Linked DNA regions of Homo sapiens: region 1 is linked to region 2. The links come from fine-mapping of genetic effects on gene expression. Tissue or cell type: CD4 T cells. Region 2 holds a variant in brackets; the other region holds the start of a gene. All regions are shown on one strand. Distances are between the middles of the regions.

Evidence for each region. PIP is the estimated chance that this variant, and not a neighbour inherited with it, causes the effect.
Region 1: it holds the start of DCAKD, and the variant in region 2 is fine-mapped to the expression of DCAKD in CD4 T cells (CEDAR, PIP 0.95).

The regions. Positions count from the first base shown.
Region 1 is chr17:45,047,394-45,055,568 of GRCh38, forward strand. It overlaps DCAKD (dephospho-CoA kinase domain containing), which reads right to left and starts at 4,239. Exons shown (of 5, transcript NM_001288655.2): 1 at 3,968-4,239. RefSeq lists enhancers at 1-263, 264-794 and a silencer at 3,880-4,379.
Region 2 is chr17:45,009,402-45,017,576 of GRCh38, forward strand. LOC107987243 (a long non-coding RNA gene) reads right to left here and starts at 4,600. Exons shown (of 6, transcript XR_007065771.1): 1 at 4,086-4,600. RefSeq lists an enhancer at 3,223-4,009. The variant T/TTA (reference allele first, on the strand shown) is at 4,906.

The sequences.
Region 1 (8,175 bases), 38 kb after region 2:
CACTTCAGCCTCCCAAGTAGCTGGGACTACAGGCATGCACCAACACGCCCGGCTAATTTTTAAAAATTTTTTGTAGAGATGAGGTTTTGCTGGGTTGCCCTGGCTAGTCTCTTTTTTTTTTTTTTTTTTTGAGATGGAGTCTCACCCTGTTGCCCAGGCTGGAATGCAGTGGCGCGATCTTGGCTCACTGCAACCTCCGGCTCCCGGTTCAAATGATTCTCCTGCCTCAGCCTCCCCAGTAGCTGGGATTACAGGCACACGCCACCACACCCAGCTAATTTTTGTATCTTTAGTACAGACGGGGTTTCGGCATGTTGGTCAGGCTGGTCTTGAACTTGTGACCTTGTGATCCGCCCACCTTGGCCTCCCAAAGTGCTGGGTTTACAGGCGTGAGCCACCGCGTCTGGCCCCTGGCTAGTCTCAAACACCTGAGCTCAAGTAATCTGCCTGCTTTGGCCTCCCAAAATGTTGAGACTACAAGCATAAGCCACCACACCCGGCCCACTTAGCTTATTAAGAGAAATACTCAAATAAAACTTTGTTAACATTGTTTTTATCAATTGTGTATTTTATAATTGTGACAACTCAATCCAAAAGAAACATTTAATACTCATGATAACACAATTTTAAAAAAGTTTTAATTTTGTATGTATTTTTGTTGCAGAGAAATATGATAAACCAAAGGCTTTCAGGCATAAAATGTATTATTACATGGTCAGGCACAGTATCTCATGCATATAATCCCAGCACTTTGGGAAGTCAAGGCAGGAGGATCACTTGAGGCCAGGAGTTCAAGACCAGCCTGGGCAACATAGTGAGACTCTGTCTCTACAAAAAAATGGAAAAAAAAAAAAATTAGCTGGAATCCCAGCACTCTGGGAGGCAGATCACTTGAGGCCAGGAGTTTGAGACCAGCCTGCCTGGCCAATATGGCAAAAGCCCATCTCTACTAATAATACAAAAATTAGGCCAGGCATGTTGGCTCATGCCTGTAATCCCAGCACTTTGGGAGGCCGAGGGCGGATCACGAGGTCAGGAGTTTGAGACCTGCCTGGCCAATATGGTGAAACCCCGTCTCTACTAAAAATACAAAAATAGCCAGGCATGGTGGTACATGCCCATAGTCCCAGCTACTCAGGAGGCTGAGGCAGAAGAATCGCTTGAAACCGGGAGGCAGACGTTGCAGTAAGCCGAGATCGTGCCACTGCACTCCAGCCTGGGTGACAGAGCGAGACTCCATCTCAAAGAAAAACAAAACAAAAATTAGCCAGGCGTGGTGGCATGCACCTGTAATCCCAGCTACTCAGGAGGCTGAGGCTTGAGAAGCATTTGAACCTAGGAGGTAGAGGCTGCAGTGAGCCAAGACTGCGCCACTGCACTCCAGCCTGGGTGACAGAGTGAGACAGACTCTGTCTCAAAAAGAAAGAAAGAACCATAAAAATAGCCAACCAGCAGCACAAGGGCTGTTCTGCCTATGGTGTAGCCATTCTTTATTCCATTATTTTCCTAATAATCTTGCTTTCATTTGGAAAAAAAAAATTGGCTGAGCATGGTGGCGAAAGCCTGCAGTCCCAGCTACTGGGGAAGCTAAGGTGGGAGTATTGCTTGAGCCCAAGAGGTCAAGGCTGCAGTGAGCTGTGATCCCGCCACTGCACTACAGCCTGGGTGACAGAGACCCTGTCTCAAAAAAACAAAAACTATTACATTAGAAAAAACTTCTGTGAGGAAACAAAGTGGAAATATGAGTTCAAGAAGGAAAAAGGGCCAAGCATGGTGGCTTACACCTCTAATCCCAGCACTTTTGGAGGCTGAGATGCAAGGATCACTTGAGACCAGGAGTCAGCCGGGGCAACATAGCAAGACCTCGTCTCTACTAAAAATAAAAAGAAAAATCAGCCATATGTGGTGACAGACACCCGTACTCTTAGTTACTTTGGTGGCTAAGGTGGGAGGATTGAGCTCAGCAGGTCAAGGGTGCAGTAACCAGTGACTGCCACTGCACTCCAGCTTGAGCAACAGAGCAAGATCCCATCTCGGAAAAAATAAAGGAAAAAAAGAACGATTTGAAATTTCGATGGTTAAATAAAAAGTGGTTCTTTTTTTTTTTTTCAAAAGATGAGGGAAATCAAATCAAATGGTGTATATTTAGACTTCACTGCAGGTTTAAATGAGGATTTTAACAGCTTTATTTTAAAATATCAACATTCACAATTAACCAGAACTTTTATCCTCTGTAATCTTCAAAATAAAAATGTGAAAGTTTCAATCTAAAGCTATCAATCTAAAACTGTGCCAGCAGGTAATTTTCTTTTTCTTTTCCTTTTTTTTTTTTTTTTTTTTTTTGAAACAGAGTCTTGCTCTTGTCACCCAGGCTGGAGTGCAGTGGCACGATCTCAGCTCACTGCAACCTCTGCTTCCTGAGTTCAAGTGATTCTCCTACCTCGACCTCCTGAGTAGCTGGGATTGCAGGCACCCGCCACCACACCCAGCTAATTTTTTTGTATTTTTAGTAGAGATGGAGTTTCACCATGTTGGCCAGGCTGGTCTCAAACTCCTGACCTCAGGTGATCTGCCTGCCTCAGCCTCCCAAAATACTGGGATTACCAGGCGTGAGCCACCGCGCTCGGCCTCCCAGCAGGTAATTTTTTCTTTCTTTCTTTCTTTTGAGAAGGAGTCTCACTCTCTTGCCCAGGCTGGAGTGCAGTGGCACGATCTCGGCTCACTGCAACCTCAGCCTCCCGGGTTCAAGCGATTTTTCTGCCTCAGCCTCCCGAGTAGCTGGGACTACAGGCATGCACCACCATGTCCGGCTAATTTTTTTGCATTTTTAGTTGACACGGGGGTTTCACCATGTTGACCAGGCTGGTCTCGAACTCCTAACCTCGGGTGATCCACCCTCCTCAACCTACCAAAGCGCTGGGATTACAGGCGTGAGCCACCGTGCCCGGCCCAGAGGGTAATTTTCAAAACAAAGCTAAGTTCGTGGCTTGCCTGCCTTCAGCTATCAGCCCTCTTCTTCTCTCCTTAAGGTACAGGCACCAAGAGGGGCTCGGAGACCATTTAAACGTTATTTACCAAGGGGACAGATTCAGACCTTGGTGAAGACAGACAGAGGAGGATTTGGTGGGAATTTAGGGCCCTGCTGAGACAAAAACCACCCGAACCCGTCTGTCCACTTTCTATCCATCTACCAGATCTCTAGCATTTCACCCCTTTCCCCAGGCCTATGCCAGCACTGTGCCACACCAACTCAATCTTGATTTATTCAGGTAAAATGAGCACTCTCCCTCCTGCAAAAACAAACACGTTTAAGACATAAAACATATTCAAAGGCTTCCATTTCCTCACCGTTAGAATTGAGACTTAATGTCAAAGTTCACTTGGGTAGGTTGAATCATTTTCCCACAACTAAGGGAGAGTGAAAAATCTTTGAAAACTCTGTAAGCAAACACCTGAAATGCCAACGCCTCCTTTGCGGAGCTGGGGAAGGAAGAGACGGGTGGCCGGATGGCCTCCCTCACTAGTTGGTGGGCGTGAGATCCACGCCGCCCCAGTCCCGGGGGCCTTCACTAAAACCTTAACTGGCCTCCCAGGGGAGAGGGAAGCGGAGGAGAGGGGTCTGAAAATCGGAGATGATCACTCAGCTCAACAGTAAAGCACTTTATACCCACCCTATGGGACAGATACTGTAGCTTTATTCCCATTTTTCAGATGAGCAAACTTGGGATCGGAAAGATACCCCAAGGTCACACAACTGAAGTGGCAGAAGCTAGATTCAAGAATCAATCGGCCCGCAAAGTTCTAAAGGGCAGTGGCTTTGGTCTGATCCTGAGTTTGAATCCACAATCTCCAGCCCTTTCTAGCTGTAAACCTTCCTGCGCGTCCTCAGCCGTAAAACAGAGGAAATAACACGTTGCTTGGTAGGGTTGCTGTCAAGACAATGGGCCGTGGATATAAAAGCACTTGCCTTAGTGCTGGCCGCATACGACGCGCTCAATACATCGTAACTCAGGCTTTCAAAAGAGGCCCGTACGCCCCACTAGGCCGCGAAATTGGGTCGCCCGGGGCGGTGGCAGCCCCGCGTAGCAGCCGCGGCCAGGGCCCGCCCCCTCCCCGGCGCCCGGCTGGCTCTCACCGGCCCGCGTGGCGCGCTACGTACCCAGCGCCTCCGCCGTGGCCCAGGCCTCCGCCTCTAGCCCAATCTCCGCAGCGCTTACAGGCCGGCTCAGCGGGCGAGGCGGGACCTCGGGAGCGCGCGCCTGCAGACCGGACGTCCGGCCAGCAGGCGGGGCCGGGAGAGGTTGGACGGGCGGGGCCGGGAGAGGTTGGGTGGGCGGGCGGGGCCGGGAGAGGTTGGGCGGGCGGGCGGGCGGGGCCGGGAGAGGTTGGGCGGGCGGGCGGGCGGGGCCGGGAGAGGTTGGGCGGGCGGGCGGGCGGGGCCGGGAGAGGTTGGGCGGGCGGGCGGGCGGGGCCGGGAGAGGTTGGGCGGGCGGGCGGACGCGGGAGAGGTTGGGCGGGCGGGCGGACGCGGGAGAGGTTGGGCGGGCGGGCGGACGCGGGAGAGGTTGGGCGGGCGGGCGGACGCGGGAGAGGTTGGGCGGGCGGGCGGACGCGGGAGAGGTTGGGCGGGCGGGCGGACGCGGGAGAGGTTGGGCGGGCGGGCGGACGCGGGAGAGGTTGGGCGGGAGAGGTTGGGCGGGAGGGCGGCCGGACGGACGCGGGAGAGGCCGGCGGGGAGAGCTCGGCCCCGGAGCACGGCACAGAGGTCCCCCGCAACCCCCGACCCGGAGCCATAAATTTTCCTTTCCCCGGAGCCGGGAAGGAGAGGGAGAGAGAGGAGAGGGGCAAAACTGCAGGGTCCTAACTTCGGATATAAAGCTCGGCCACTCGCTACTTGTGCAGCCTTGGCAGAGGTGATCATGAGCACTTTCCACCTGCCAGGTCCTAAGAGCACTTTGTGGGATTATCTCAGCCCGCACAGTCCGCAGGGTGGATACTATCATCATCCCCATTTTACACAACAGGAAACTATGTTTAGCGGTTAATCCATTTGCCCTCTCATACAAAGTCATGTGATTGCAGAGCCCGCATCCTGTCCATACAAGCCTAGCAAGCCACTCAGCCTCTCATCCTGTCTCCTCTCAAAGTGGGGATAATCGCAGCCGTGCAGCGTTGTTGAAAGAATACATAAAAGCCGGGCACGGTGGCTCACACCTGTAATCTCAGCACTTTGGGAGGATCACTTGAGCCCAGGAGTTCGAGACCAGCCTAAACAAGAGTGAGACTAACCCCCGATCTCTACAAAAAAAAAAAACAAAAAACAAACTAGCCAGGCATGGTGACAGTGTGGTCTCATTTACTCGGGAGGCTGAGGCAGGAGGATGGCTTGAGCCCAGGAGGTCAAGGCTGCAGAGAGCCATGATGGTACCACTGCACTCCAGCCTGGGCAACAAAACGAGACCTTGCCTCAAAAAAAATAAAGCATCTAGGCCGGGCGCTGTGGCTCACGCCTGTAATCCCAGCACTTTGGGAGGCCAAGGCGGGTGGATCACCTGAGGTCAGGAGTTTGAGACCAGCCTGGCCAACATGGCAAAATCCCGTCTCTACTAAAAATACAAAATTAGCCGGGCGTGGTGGTGAATGCCTGTAATCCCAGCTACACGGGAGGCTGAGGCAGGAGGATTGCTTGAACCCGGGAGGTGGAGGTTGCAGTGAGCCCAAGATCCGGTCACTGCACTCCAGCCTGGGAGACTACAGCAAGACTCTGTCTCCAGTTAAAAAAAAAAAAAAAAAAAAAAAAAAACTAGTTATCTAGTTATGCCTCACATATAGCAGGAAGTTGTTTTTGTTTTTTTTTTGTTTGGTTTGTTTGTTTGTTTGTTGAGACAGAGTTTCGCTCTATTGCCCAGGCTGGGGTGCAGTGGCAGGATCTTGGCTCACTGCAGCCTCTGCCTCCCAGGTTCAAGCGATTCTCCTGCCACAGCTTCCCGAGTAGCTGGGACTAGAGGTGTGCGCCACCACATCCAGCTAATTTGTTTTGCTTTTGAGATGGAGTTTTGCTCTTGTTGCCCAGGCTGGAGTGCAGTGGCATGATCTCGGCTCACTGCAACCTCTACCTCCCGGGTTCAAGCGATTCTCCTGCCTCAGCCTCCCAAGTAGCTAGGATTACAGGCATGTACCACCACACTCGGCTAATTTTGTATTTTTAGTAGAGATGGGGTTTCACCACGTTGGCCGGGCTGGTCTGGAAATCCTGACCTAGGTGATCCACCCACCTCGGCCTCCCAAAGTGCTAGGATTACAGGCGTCAGCCACCATGCCCAGCACATCTGGCTAATTTTTGTATTTCTAGTAGAGATGGGGTTTGGCATGTTAGCCAGGCTGGTCTCAAACTCCTGACCTCAGGTGATCCACCCACCTCGGCCTCCCAAAGTGCTGGGATTATAGGCATGAGCCACGGTGCCTCACCAGCAGGAAGTTTTTAATTAACACCTACCCTGTCTCCCTTCCCTTTCCTTAAACTGTATCTCTATTCTCTACTTCCTTTAAGGTAGGAATCTTGCCTATCTACTACTACAATACCCAGTGCCCTGCACAGTAGGGATTCAGTATATTGAGGAATTAAGTAATTTAACATCTTTCTCAGATCACCTGAGTCCCTGAAAGCTTTCTTCCTGACTTCAACAGTCAAGGAGACCTACTGCCATCACCCAATAAAAAGGATTCCATCTTGTGTCCAAAAGGGCCATTTGGTACAAACACCCTGCCAGTATTTGAATCTCTTCCACATTATCTCTGCCATGTATACATGTACATGTCCCATGTTGGGGAACTCACTGCCACTCAAGACAGTTTTATTTATTTTTTTTTTTGAGACAGAGTCTGGCTCTGTTGCCTAGGCTGGAGTACAATGGCGTGATCTCAGCTCACTGCAACCTCCGCCTCCCGGGTTCAAGTGATTCTCCTGCCTCAGCTTCCCTAGTAGCTGGGATTACAGGTGCCTGCCACCATGCCAGGCTAATTTTTACATTTTTAGTAGAGATGGGGTTTCACCATGCTGGCCATGCTGGTCTCGAACTCCCAACCTCAGGCGATCTGCCTGCCTCAGCCTCCCAAAGTGCTGGGATTACAGGTGTGAGCCACCACACCTGGCTGACAGTTGTTATTTTTTCAAGTCCAGTCTTGGCAGTTAGAAAGTTCTTTCTTAGGCAGTATCTCTCCTAGTTTTAAACCGTGGGGCCATACAGAACAAATCTAATTCTATTTTATAGAGCCAGATTTAATGGCTCAATTCCCTTCCTTGATCAAACAATGTATAGCTAACCTAATCCTGTGGTTCTCACCCTTTTCCCTACTCCTGACACATCCAAGGGATACCCAGACTCCCACCAGTAATCATGGCTGGCCAAGACAGGGATAGGAACAGGCCTGGCCTGTCCCCCCAAATTATCTGGATCTTCCTGGGACACAGTGTTAGGAAACCGTCCAGATGACCCTACTTTTCTCAGATACTGCCTTACAGTATTATAACTATTCATGTACAAGTGAGAGCCTTGTCTTCCAAGGAGGTATCCTTGTGGTCCGATTTGCCAAAAGCAGCTGCACCTCTGCCCCAGGAAGATCCCATAGGAAAGGGTGAAGGGCTGCTACAGGGCCTTCAACCCAGGCACCTCCTCCATAATGAAACTTGGGCTTTGGAGTTTCCATGTGATGCCATCAAGGGCTTTTTCAGCTCAAATATATGTCTTTCATGATTCAGGATGGCAATAAGAAACTTTGAGCTGGCTGTAGCTACTTACACAATCTCATTTTATCCTGAGAGTGGCCTGCATCTCAGTCACCTCTGTGTCCTTAGCATTTAGCATGATGCCTGGAATACAGTTCTGCTTCTCATTTTGTTTGATGAACAACCCTGAGTCCATTAGAGATGACTCCTTTGGCTCCTGGTTTTAAATTTATTTTCTGTACGTTTATTTATTTATTTATTTATTTATTTATTTTTGAGACAGGGTCTCACTCTGTTACCCAGGTTAGTGCAGTGGCACGATCTTGGCTCACTGTGACCTCTGCCTCCCAGGCTCAAGTGATCCTCCCATCTCAGCCTCCCACTGAATAGCTGGAACCACAGGCACACACTCCTCACTTTCTAAGCTCCAGTCCTAAGTCATATCATTC
Region 2 (8,175 bases):
GGCAGGGCTAAGTCTGGTTCCTCTGGCCAGTGCCCAGCTTCCCCACGCTCACTATCCTCTGGGCCTGGGGCATGCTAAGCCCCAGGAGTCAAGGTGGGACTCTGAAGGGATCTACTCCCCTCCCTGCACCTCTCAGCCAATCAATGTCTGCTCTGCCCTCCCTGACTTCAGCAGAGTTGGTGCCAGATCCTGGAACTCACTGATTGGTTGAGGGAGCAACCCCTCTGCCCACCCCTCACCATGGAGGCTTTTGGAGAGACCTAGCCATGGGCAAGCTTTGTGCCCTGCAAATGGCTCAGTGGTACCAACCACTGAGCTGCCTGCCCCTGGGCCCTCATAAGACCATGTCTGCAGCCTCAGTGGCCTTCTGGGCACGGCTGGCCTCCTGGTCAGCAGCTGTAGGGGTGAGTCACGGCTCTCATTAGAGCTTAATTAATCAATTGAGCTAATCAGACAGCTGTGATGTGCTGTGGTTGCAGATGGGGGGGAGAGGGAGAGAGTTGGAGCGTGAGGGACTGGTAAGGCGAGCTGGGGCTGGCAGGGCCTGGAGTGGCGGCAGGGCCTGGAGTGGCAACAGAGTCTGGTGGGTTGGCAAGGGCGGAGGGCGCTGGAAAGGAGGATGAATGATCCTGACAAAGGCCCGTGATAGGTTGCTCTGAAAGGTGACCTTGGCAAGGTGCCAGAGACCGAGGCTGGGGGAGGAGGAAGCAGGACCTCTCCCACCTCCAGCTTCCTCTCTCATTTTTTATCTTGTTAAGTGTGTCTCCAAAGCTTTTTGAAATCCTCCACTGAATGGGATGGGAAAAGGAGACAAAGACAAAAAAAGGTAGGTCCTCACATTCCCAGTGATCCCAGTCTGATGGGGGAGGCCAGAGGTCTACTGGCAGCACAGACAGAGACCCAGACTAAGAGATGGAGACAGAGACACGGTGTCTCTCCAGGTGAGCTGCTCAGGCTTGGACATCTGGACTGGGTGGATGGGGAGGAGCCAGAGGGACCAGAGCCAAGGGTAGGCGGGAGTCCAGTAAGAATATTGGGAGGAGGGGAGCGCCTGAGCGGGTTTTACAATGTGATGTGCAAAATCTTGTTTCATCTATTTTTTTCTCACATCCGACCTTGGTGTTACCTTGGGGTGGGGAGCGAGCAGGGCAGGAAGTGCAATGGTGGGAAATGGGTTCCGAGAGGACTCATGGACAGCTGGGATAGCTCTGCCCTCCAGGGGCTTCCATTTCCAGAGGCTTACCGGGAGTCTGAGGCTGTGAGAGAGAAAGATCCAGGGCCTGGGACATGCAAGGGGCTACGGGAGATGGATCAGAGGAGGGCAAGCATTTCTGATGAGGCTACCTGGTAAGGATTCCTCCCAGAAGAGGTGGCATTTGAGCCAGGTCTTTCAGAATGGATGGATTTCAATCAGCAGAATTGGGTGTGGAGAGGAAGAAGGATGTTGCAGGAGGAGAAGCGGCCCAGGCAAAGGCAGAGAGGCTGGACAGCCTTAGGCAGGGCCAGTTGGCACAGCAAGTTGGGCCGGAAACAAGGTTACTGTTTGTGTCAGGTGGAAAGAGCTTGATGGTGAAGGGCTCTTGGAATCCCAAACCAAGGAGTTTGAAAGGGAATTTGGTAGACACTAGGAATCACTGTAAGTCTCTAACTGGGAAGAATAGGCTGAAAGTAGCTGTACAGAGAGGATGTCTATGGAAACAGTTCTTTGTAGGATGGAACCAAGAAGGAAGAAACCTGAAACAAGAAGAAAGAAATGGCAGGTGTGGTGACTCACACCTGTCATCCCAGCACTTTGGGAGGCTGAGGCAGGCAGATCACGAGGTCAGGAGTTCAAGACCAGCCTGGCCAACATAGCGAAACCCTGTCTCTACTAAAAATACAAAAATTAGCTGGGCATGGTGGCACATGCCTGTAGTCCCAGCTACCCGGGAGGCCGAGGCAGGAGAATCGCTTGAACCTGGGAGGTGGAGGTTGTGGTGAGCCAAGATTATGCCACTGCACTCTGGCCTGGGCAACAGAGTAAGACTCTATCTCAAAAAAAAAAAAAAAAAAAAAGAAGAAGAAGAAGAAGAAAGAAAGAAAGGCCGGGCGCGGTGGCTCATGCCTGTAATCCCAGCATTTTGGGAGGCCAAGGCGGGCGGATCACTTGAGGTTGGGAGTTCGAGACCAGCCTGACCAACATGGAGAAACCCTGTCTCTACTAAAAAATACAAAAGTAGGCAAGCATGGTGGTGCATGCCTGTAATCCCAGCTACTCAGGAGGCTGAGGCAGGAGGATCGCTTGAACCTGGGAGGGGGGAGGTTGCAGTGAGCCGAGATTGTGCCATTGCACTCTAGCCTGGGCAACAAGAGCAAAACTCCGTTTCAAAAAAAAAGAAAGGCCAAGTGCAGTGGCTCACACCTGTCATCACAACACTTTGGGAGGCAGAGGTGGGAGAATTACTTGAGGCCAGGAGTCCAAGGTCAGCCTGGGCAACATTGAGAAGCCCCATCTGCACAAAAAAAGAAAAAAAATTAGCTCGCTGTGCTAATGCACTACAGGTGCATGCACCTGTAGTCCTAGTTACTTGCAAGGCTGAGGAGGGAGGATCACTTGAGTCCAGCAGTTGTAGACTGCAGTGAGCTATGACCATGCCACTGTACTCCATCCTGGGTGACAGAGCAAGACCCTGTGTAAAAATAAATACATAAATAAGTAAAAGAAGAGGCTGGGCCAGGTGGCTCACACCTATAATCCCAGCACTTTGGGAGGCTGATGCAGGCAGATCATTTGAGCCCAGGAGTTTGAGACCAGCCTGGGTAACGTGGCAAAATCTGGTCTCTACCAAAAATACAAAAAATTAGCTAGATGTGGTGTTGCGTGCCTAGGGTCCCAGCTACTTGGGAGGCTGAGGTGGAAGGATCTCTTGAGCCCAGGATGTTGAGGCTGCCATGAGCCATGTTTGTGCCACTGCACTCCAGCCTGGGTGACTGAGGGAGATCCTGTCTAAAAATAAATAAATAAATAAATAAATAAATAAATAAATAAATAAAGTTAAATCCCAGATCTATCCCTTAGTTGCAGTCTGCAAAAGAAATAACTGAGGGGCTGGGCACCTCAAAGTGTAATCCTAGCACTTTGGGAGGCTGAGGCAGGTTGATCACCTGAGGTCAGGAGTTCAAGACCAGCCTGGCCAACATGGCAAAACCCCGTCTCTACTAAAAATACAAAAATTAGCGGGTATGGTGGTTTGACTATAATCCAGCTTCTCCGGAGGCTGAGGCAGGAGAATCGTTGAATTCTGGGGGCGGAGGTTGCAGTGAGCCAAGATTGCGCCACTTCACTCCAGCCTGGAAAGAGTGAAACTCAAAAACAAAAACAAAAACAAAGATATAACTGAGGGCTCACTGTGGCTCTCGGGACCTGGCAGGTGGGCTGGGGGCTTGGTCCTGGGGTAGCCTGGTGCTTCTCTCCACACTCCTCCCCAGGCAGGGCAATTGTGCAGCTAGGACAGGGAAGACCAGTGGGAAGTAGGGGCTGGGACCACTTGGGCACAAGATCAGCTGGCCCAGGTGTGAGATTCAGGTTTCCAGGTCCCCTTCCCTGGCTCCCAGCATCAGCAGAAAATGTCAGACTAGACCCACGAGGGCCTCCCAGCCAGCACTCGGCTGCCTTTGCATTGCCCTGAAATAGCCCTGTCCACTCCTTCCCACAAACCCTCGCGCCTAGAGCAGCTGAGAAGGAGGTCCTGGGTATCCTGGCCCCACCCCAGCGTGTCCAGCTCACCCACTGCTGGATGTGCTGTGTGGCTCTCAGAAAATCACACCCTTTCTGGGCCGCCCATCCTACCCTCTTTCTCCAGCCTCCCACTGAAGTTGGAGGGCCCCTGCAGACTCTGGGAGTACAGCCAGCAATAGCCAACCAAGGGAGGGGCGGCCTCAAAAGGGGCTCCCTCCCTCCCTCCTCACTTTCTCTTTTCCTCGCGCACGTTCATGGCTTACAAGCATACTGTCTTTGTATAAGAAACCTTTTTACAGCCTTTAAAGCAGGGTTGATCACAGCTATTCCCATTTGAGTGATGGTGCAGTTCCAAGAGGGGCCTTACCTTAGATGCTACAGCCAGAAGACTAGGCACTGACTGGGAATGAGAAGTACCCAAGCCCAGCTGTCAGGCTCTTCCCTCCAAACCAGCTGCTCTAGTTGCCAGGAGACTCTGGAAAGGAGAGCTCAGTGTCTGCCCCAGCCCGGCCCCTATCCTGGCGAAGTGGTCATTAGTCTGCCTCCCCCAGAGAGCCCCTGCTGGGGCACTGTAATGCCTCAGAGGCCAGAAAGTTGCTCCCACCCCCAGCAAAAGGGGGGCTCTGCCCTGTATTTCTCAGGGGCTCACTTCACCTTCTGCCTCCAGAGGTCCCTCCTCACTATCACAGGGAGGGGGCAGGGGTCGGGGCAGAAGCTCCTATCCTGTGGGCTTCTCATTCCAGATCTCTGCTGGCCCGGTGCGGTAGCTCCTGCCACATGTGGCTTCAGGGCACCTGGAATGTGGCTAGTGCCACATGCTGAAATGATATTTTAGATATATTGGGTTAAGTTAAAAAATATTATTTGAGGCCGGGCGCAGTGGCTCACACCTGTAATCTCAGCATTTTGGGAGGCCGAGGTGGGCAGATCACCTGAGGTCAGGAGTTTGAGACCAGCCTGACCAACATGAAGAAACCCCATCTCTACTAAAAATAGAAAATTAGCCAGGCGTGGTGGTGCATGCCTGTAATCCCAGCTACTCGGGAAGCTGAGGAAGGAGAATCACTTGAACCTGGGAGGTGGAGGTTCCAGTGAGCCGAAACTGCACCATTGCACTCCAGCCTGGACAACAAGAATGAAACTGTCTCAAAAAATATATATAATATATATATATAATATATATAATA[T/TTA]TATATATATTATATACTATATATAATATATAATATATATAATATATACTATATATATTATATATAATATAATACATATTTAATTTGAATTAATTTGAAGTGTTTCTTTTCACATTTTTTTTTTTTTTTTTTAGACAGGGTCTCACTCTGTTGCCTAGAGTGCAGCAGTGCAATCACAGCTCACTGCAGCTTCGACCTCCTAGGCTCAAGTGATCCTCTCAGCTCAGCCTCTCATGTAGCTGAGACTACGGTATGCGCCACCACTCCTGGCTACTTTTTTTGTAGACGTGACATATCCCTATGTTGCCCAGGCTGGTCTTGAACTGATCCTCCTGCCTCAGCCTCCCAAAGTGTTGGGATTACAGGCGTGAACACCGTGCCTGGCCTGTTTTTACTTTTTTAAATGTGACTATTAGAACATTTAACAGTACATTGGCCGGGTGCGGTGCTTCACGCCTGTAATCCCAGCACTTTGGGAGGCCGAGGCAGGCGGATCATGAGGTCAAGAGATGGAGACCATTCTGGCCAACATGGTGAAACCCCGTCTCTACTAAAAGTACAAAAATAAGCAGGGCGTGGCAGTGCTCGCCTGTAGTCCCAGCTACTCAGAAGGCTGAGGCAGGAGAATTGCTTGAACCCAGGAGGCAGAGGTTGCAGTGAGCCGAGATCACACCACTGCACTCCAGCCTGGCGACAGAGCGAGACTCCGTCTCAAAAAAAAAAACCAAAAACAGTACATTGGCCTGGCATGGTGGCTCATGCCTGTAATCCCAGCATTTTGGGAGGCCAAGGTGGGTGGATCACCTGAGGTTGGGAGTTCGAGACCAGCCTGACCAATATGGAGAAACCCCATCTCTATGAAAAATACAAAATTAGCCGGGCATGGTGGCGTATGCCTGTAATCCCAGCTACTCGGGAGGTTGAGGAAGGAGAATTACTTGAACCCAGGAGGCAGAGGTGCGGTGAGTGGAGATTGCGCCATTGCACTCCAGCCTGGGCAACAAGAGCGAAACTCCGTCGTCAACAACAACAACAACAACAACAACAACAACAACAGAACATTTAACAGTACATATATGGGCTGGGTGCAGGGGCTCATTCCTGTAATCTCAACACTTTGGGAGACTGAGGTGGGAGGATCACTTGAGGCCAGGAATTTGAAACCAGTCCGGGCAACATAGTGAGAGCCCCATCTCTACAAAAAATACAAACAAATAAACAAGCAAAAAATCCCCCAAAACTAGCCAGGTGCTCAGGAGGCTAAGGTGAGAGGATTGTTCGAGCCCAGGAGGTTGAGGCTGTAATAAGCTATGATTGTGCCGCTGCACTGCAGCCTGGGCCACAGACGGAGACCTTGTCTCTTAAACAAATTAGTTTAAAAAAATTTTTTTAAGTGTATATGTGGCTTACAGTATATTTCTAGTGGGCAGGGCTCCCCAGATAACAATAGCCCCTCAGCCCTGTCCAGTGTTTTGTATAATCTCTTTTAAAAACTCTGAGACCAGTGGGGTAGGGGCCACCTGCCTCTATTTTACAGACAGGGAAGGTGAGACTCTATGAGGTCAGATGACTTGGTCAAGGTCATATAGCCAGGAAGGGGTGGAGGCCCAGGTTTTCCTGACTCTAGATCTGAGACAATCCAGAGAGATGTCCCTGCTTCCCCATGGGCATTGACCCACACTGGATCACTCACTACACCCAGCCCCTCCTGCAGCCACTGCCCCCTTCCCACACTCCAGGAATCTTCCACTAGAAACAGCCCCCTGACAAATCCCATTAAGACAAATGCCTCTTGGGCCTCTGTTGAAGCCGAAGTCTGATTTGAGTTAGACTCTGGCCTACGATTCCCCGTCAAAGCTGCTGCCTTCACCCTGCAACTAAAGCCATGGCTCCTTTGTACCTGCTGCCACTCACATACATCAGGGTAGAAGAAGCAATGGCCACTGCTCCCTGGGACATGCCCATTTCTCTCCCACCCATACTCCTCCACCTGGGTTCCGCCTTATCTAGCTACTCCTTGAAGATGGGCATATTCAGTGATTCTAGGGGACTGTTTCTTTAATTTCCCCCCCGTCTGTCCCTGGAACGTGATAAAAATACCCAGCATTGATCTTTTTTTCTTCCCTTTCTGCCAGGATAATGTTTACCCAGGTGTCAATCAGGAGAAGAATTTGGCTTCCTAATTTCTCTTCTCCTCCCTGGGGGCCGCACATCTCCCTGCCTCGCATGGACACTGAGCTGGAATCAAGGTTACTAATAATCCCCCAGCACACACAGACACCGAAAGCACATATATTAAAGTCACATATTGATTTATATTTTCGGGTCCCTCTGCCTTTCTGCCCAGCCTCAGCCTTTCTCTTTGCCAAGGAGAAAAAAGAATTACACAGCCATATTTTTCGCCAAGATGTTTAGTGTAAAGAGCATTGTGTCTGAAGGTAATTCCCGCTCTCCCACCCTCTTTGCGGGTATTTTAAAAAAATAGTGTGGCATTGCCTATCCATATGCATTTATCTTTTTGCTGTTCGTTGTTTCAATTTTCCCTGAGGGTACCAAAGAGAGATTTAAGGTAGACTGTCAGAAGGTCTTCCTGGCTTGACAAATGGTGGGCTGCCATCTCCAAAGAGGCTGGTTGTTTCGCCAGCAGAGATAATCCTATTGCAGGTAGGGGTGGAGTGGGTAAGAGTGAGTGTAGAAGGCAGGGCAATGGATTCAGCAGCCTCTAGAGGTCACCCCAGGCTGGGTGTGGTGACTCATGCCTGCAATCCCAGCATTTTGGGAGGTCGAGGCGGGAGCATCACTTGAGGCCAGGAGTTTGAAACCAGCCTGGGCAACATGGTAAGACCCTGTCTCTAAAAAAAAAAAAAAAAGAAAAAAATTAGCCACGCATGGTGGTGCACATCTGTAATCCTAGCTATTCGGGAGAGTCACCTGGGCCTAGAAGTTCAAGGTTACAGTGAGCTATGATGGCTCTGCTGCACTCTCATTTGGGCTAGAGTGAAACCCTGTCTCTAAAAAAATTAAAAAAATAATAAAAGGCCGGGCACAGTGGCTCACACCTGTAATCCCAGCATTTTGGGAGGTCAAGGCGGGCAGATCACGAGGTCAGGAGATCAAGACTATCTTGGCCAACATGGTGAAACCCCGTTTCTACTAAAATACAAAAAATTAGCCGGGCGTGGTGGCGCACACCTGTAGTCCCAGCTATTCTGGAGGCTGAGGCAGGGGAATCGCTTGAACCCAGGAGGCAGAGGTTGCAGTGAGCCGAGA